Regions from separate parts of the Homo sapiens genome. Here region 1 is linked to region 2. A link means that fine-mapping ties the variant in region 2 to the expression of a gene that starts in the linked region. Tissue or cell type: visceral fat. Region 2 holds a variant in brackets; the other region holds the start of a gene. All regions are shown on one strand. Distances are between the middles of the regions.

Region 1 (2,683 bases), 230 kb before region 2:
TGGGGGCTTCCAGCTGCAGAGGCGCGGGCGCTGTGGCCTGCGCAGCCTGTTGTGATGTGGGTGCTGGGCGCTTTGCTGGGGAGCTGCCCCTGGAGGGCCACAGAAATCGCCCATCGATGCCACGCCCTTTGTTCCAGAAACTTAGACATGCAAAGTTGATCATGAAGGGACTGAACTCAGCCACGCCTGCCTGTGCTGAGGACGCTGGCGCGAATTCAGTGAGTGAAAACTCATCCAATGAGGAGGGTGGGATGCACGGAACCCACCAGTCAGGGCCGGGCCCAGCTGCTTCCCCGGAACTTCGCACCTCCTCTGGTGTCTGGGCAGACGCCTCCCGGAGTGAAGCTGGGGCTGGTGTCAGATTCAAACCGAGTAACAGCTGGAAAACATCTGACAGCTGAGACCTGGCTGTTCTTGGCAGGGGCTTCAGAGAGCAGCGTGGGCGTTAGAGCTTCTGCTCTTAGGACACTTAGCCCCCAAAGGCAGCCCTTTAAACCCTCATGGGACAAAAACAAACCAGCAGCAAAAGGGAGAACCAGCAAACCAGCAGACAGAAGAAACAGACACGCGGCCGGGCGCGGTGGCTCAGGCCTGGAATCCCAGCACTGTGGGAGGCCGAGGCGGGCGGATCACGAGGTCAGGAGATCCAGACCAGCCTGACTAACACGGTGAAACCCCGTCTTCACTAAAAATACAAAAAATTAGCCGGGCGTCGTGGTGGGCGCCTGTAGTCCCAGCTACTCGGAAGGCTAAGGCAGGAGAATGGCGTGAACCCGGGAGGCGGAGGTTGCAGTGAGCCGCGATCATGCCACTGCACTCCAGCCTGGGCGACAGAGCGAGACTCCATCTCATAAACAACAACAACAGCAACAAAACAAAACAACAATGACAACAACAGACACACAAAGGGGTGCGTGTTGTGAGGCAGGTGATGGAGACACTCTCCCCCCACCAAAGGTGTTGACAGCAGGAATCCCAGTGGGAAAACAAAATTACAAAGTTCAGTTCCCCCAGCGAAATGCGGGTGGGCTCACGTCTTGTGCCAGATATGTCACATACTCTGTTCACCTTTTGGGGGCCCCCAAATGCAGCGCCAATCTCTCAAGCAAGGACAGCGCCTGTCACATCACAGAGAGCTTACTTTTCCAACCATTTCTCAGTGACGGGCAGGTTTTCCTGTCTCTGTTGAGGGTCCTCAGCCTGTCCTCTCCGGGGTGCACGCCTGTATCTCGCCTGCCGCTCTCTGTTACATGGGCTCAGTGACACGCATGCTTGGCGTCGGTTCAGTCCCAGAAAGACGCGCTGCCCTCTGTCTGGGCACCGTCCCTGGCAGAGCTGTCCGTCCGGAGGGCAGCTGTTGGCAGCATGGGAATCTGGAGGACGGCCAGCTGGGCCTCCTCTGCCCTCAGCCCCCATCGGGACTGTTTTTTTCTTCTTTCGACGGCTGCTCCCAGGAAACCTTGTGGGTGGGAGGGAGCATTGTCTGGGGAGGGGCGTCGGGGCACCTAGGAGTCCTGGGTTTTGCCCAGGCCTGCGTCTCAGGAATGGTGGCCTTTGCACTTACTGCAGGCGAAATGTATATCACAAAACGACGATGCAGACACACTCAAGGCAGGTGTGGAAATGCTTAGGGTCTCTCTGCCCCACCCATACATGGGTTTACGTATTTATTGTGAGGAGCTGGCTCTCGCGGTGACAGGCGCTGAGAGGTCTCGGGATCTGCCATCTGGGACCCAGGAAAGCCTGCGGTGTCAGTCAACCCGACTCTGAGGGAGGTTGGTGTAAATTCCAGACCTTGGTCCAGAGACGGTGAGATGAGGCGTCCTGGAGCAAGCAGGAAGGAAGGCAGGCGAGCAGGAGCGATTCCTCCTTCCTCCACCGCGGCACCTTCAGGCCGTCAGAGGATTGGATGACGCCCAGCACACGGGGGTCACCGCGTCCGGAAACACCCTCCCAGCCGCACCCAGAAACACTGTCCCAGCCGCCGCCCTGGTGCCATCAGGTAGATGCACAAAGTGAAGCCCCCAGGCTTTGTCCTGGACGGGGTTCCTCTCCCAGGATCCATCCCTCCAGGCCTCAGGGAGCCGGCAGCAGGGCCGGCCCAGGGCCAGCCTCCGTGATCTCGTTTCAGTCTCCCGGGTCACTTGCTTCTTTATGAGGTTTCCAAGTCATTGATAGTTTCAGGTGAAAGCTTTTGGGAAATTTTCGTTTACTATCATAAAGCAGACGGTACACTTATTTTTTATATTATCCTTCACAGTTGTTTTTTTTTAAACTGGAGTTCTGTGGGTGTCATCAGTGGATTGGGAGCTGTTCGTGATTTCCCGAGTCCTGGCGTGTGCTCAGGACACCTTGATCTGTGGCTCCCTGCGAACTGGGGTTAGGCCTCAGGACGCGCCGGGACATGCCGCAGCGCACAGAATGCACAAGGTGGAAAGACGGTGCTCAGGCAGCGCGGGTGGAAGACGCCGGTGAGAACCAGCAGCTGCTTCAGAAAAACCGCTGCGTGCAGCACCGATGGGAGGAAGCCACCTAAAAACGGAAAGGAATAGCCCCAGGAGAGGCGTCTCCAGCAGGACTGCGTTTTTGTAAAGCCCGTGGTGGTCTCCCCAGGTCCTATGCGCGAGCGCCCCGGGGATTCCCCACCTGCCCTGGAGCCGAGAGGCCAAACCAACCAGCAATC
Region 2 (2,683 bases):
TCAAAAAAAAATAGCGATTTTGGAGGATTAGGGGAGTTTGATAAATTGCCTGCAATTCTGGCAGTATGAACTGCATATTAATTTCTCTCTTTCAAGAACATTTTTATTTATTAATTCCTTACAAAAACTCCCTAAACTTTGGAACAGCTCTCAATTGCCTGTATTCTTTTTTTTCTTATTATGGTACTCTTCTAGAGATTTGGCTTGCATCTATGAATTAAGCCAGGACATCTTCAGAAATTGTCTGATTAAAAACACCACCAATGGAGTTTCATTTAATTTGTATTGCTCTGACTAGTGAAACACACACATCTATGTTGCTGAGGATATTTTACTGCAGTTTGAGTTGTAATAATAGCTCTGTTTAAGATCCGTCAGTCACTTGAATCTTCTCTAAGGCTTTGTATGTTAGAAGTTAATTTGCTTTCTTACAAGGCCACATTCTATCTTGTAACTAAACAACTGAATTTTATGTCTTAGCGTAGATGGTTTATTACTTTCTGGTTTTTCTTTAGTAAGAATCCTATAAAAACACTAGTATTTTTCTCTGAGTTTAAAATTCAACACATGCCTACTGATATGGTTAGGCTTTGTATCCCCACCTGAATCTCATCTTGAATTGTAATCCCCATAGCCCTCATAATCCCCACAGGTCAAGGGAGAGACCAGGTGGAGGTAATTGAATCATGGGGGCAGTTTCCCCTGTGCTGTTCTTGTGATAGTGAGTTCTCACGAGATTTGATGGTTTTATAAGGGATTCTTTCCCCTTTGCTCGGCACTTCTTCATGCTGCCTTGCGAAGAAGCTGGCTTGCTTCCTCTTTGTCTTCCGCCATGATTGTAGATTTCCTGAGGCCTTCCAAGCTGTGCTGAACTGTGAGCCAATTAAACTTCTTTCCTTTATAAATTACCCAGTCTTGGGCAGTTCTTTATAGCAGTATGAAAACAGACAAATACACCTACTATGTAAAACTTAAAATACAACAAAACAAAACAATATCTCACTAACATAGGAGCTAATATTTTGGTGTACTTTGTTTAGTATTTTATATTAAAAATATGTACATATATATTTATATATAATTAAGAACATGTATGTACAATCGTGCATACATCATGTACATACATCTACTTAAGAAAATAGCTATGTAATATACCATTA[C/T]TCAACTAGATTATAATTTTTTCTCCATTTTTTATTGTAATTTATCATTTTCTACTTTTTTGTTTTCTCATTTATTGCATAATATTTAATTATGCAAAAAATACATTAAATACATTGAAAATATATAGTGTAGCTATAAGAATAAAGAACGATGGTAAAACAAATGCTAATACCCACTACCTGACTTAAAGAATATGATACTATTTTTTTCCAATTGAAATCCCCTCAACTACTCAGAATTACTGCTATCCCTTTTATCCTTTCATTAATTTTCTTCTAGTTTTCTCACATGTGAATCTATTTCTAAATACATTTCTTTATTTTGCAAGTTTTTGGACTTCATATAAATGTAACCATATTGTATATATTCTTCTTCAGCTTCTTACTTTTTCACTAAACAATATGTTTTGCTGATACTTACATTCATATGTACAGTAATAGTTGATTTATTTTAATGGCTATATATTATTCCATTGTTAGAATACACCAGGATTTATTTTTACTTATTTTTTTTGCTGGAAAATTGGGTGTCTTTTTTATTTTTTGATATAACAAACAATGTTGTAATCATTTTGTATTTACTTCCTAGTCCACTCCTGTAAGTTTCTCTTGAGTACATACTAGCAATGAAGATGCTGAGTCACTGCATATACATACTCACAAGTTTATTCTATAATGTAATATTCTATAAAGTAGCTGTATCAGTTTATACTTTAACCAGTAATGGACAAGATTTTATGTTACTTCCCATCTTTGTTAATTATTACTTTTAGACTCTAACTTTTATCAGGCTCATGGATGTAAAAAGTATCTCAGGGTGGTTTTAATTTGCATTTATCTGCTCATCTATGAAGATGAGCTTCTTTTCATATAATTATGAGTCATTATTTTTGTTTTGCCTTCTTTTGTTTATGCATTTTGCTTGTTCTATGTCTTATTTTTCCTGTTGATTTTTGGGAGTTCATATATATTCTAAATGTATATTTATTCACTCATATATATGTTGCAAATATTACAGTTTATGATTTGTCACCTTATGATATCATCCAAATAGAGAAGCTTTATATTTTGATGTAGTCATATGTTCATTTTTCCTCCTTAATGTTTGTTTTTCTTGGTTCTATGACCTACCAAATGTAACAAAAATTCTCATTTATTTTTAATCTAAATGTTTTAAGTATTTTCCTGGAATTCACCTTGAATTGATTTCTATTGGAGATAGATATCCAATCTAATTTGCCTCATATGGATAACCACTTGTTCTATTACTGCTGTAACAAATTTCTACAAACTAAGTGACCTAAAATAACACAAACTTGTCATCTTACACTGTACACAAGTCAGAAATCAGGCATGAATTTTAGTGAACTAAAATCAAGTTGTCGACAGGCATGTTTCTTTATGGCGGCTAGGGTAGAATCCATATCCTGGCCTTTTCTATCTTCTAGAGAACATCAGCATTCCTTTTCTCATTGCCTCTCCTCTCTCTTTTTAAAGCTGGCAATGTCACATTTCTCTGACCA

What was found. PIP is the estimated chance that this variant, and not a neighbour inherited with it, causes the effect.
Region 1: it holds the start of FAM240C, and the variant in region 2 is fine-mapped to the expression of FAM240C in visceral fat (GTEx, PIP 0.99).

The regions. Positions count from the first base shown.
Region 1 is chr2:241,899,217-241,901,899 of GRCh38, forward strand. FAM240C (family with sequence similarity 240 member C) reads right to left here and starts at 1,248. Exons shown (of 3, transcript NM_001382368.1): 1 at 1,142-1,248. The coding sequence starts at 1,153. All of the region lies in intron 2 of LINC01237 (long intergenic non-protein coding RNA 1237), which reads left to right. RefSeq lists enhancers at 719-1,363, 1,364-2,007, 2,008-2,653.
Region 2 is chr2:242,131,068-242,133,750 of GRCh38, forward strand. All of the region lies in intron 4 of LINC01881 (long intergenic non-protein coding RNA 1881), which reads left to right. Among named protein-coding and RNA genes, the nearest start is that of LINC01881, 44 kb to the left of the region's middle. The variant C/T (reference allele first, on the strand shown) is at 1,161.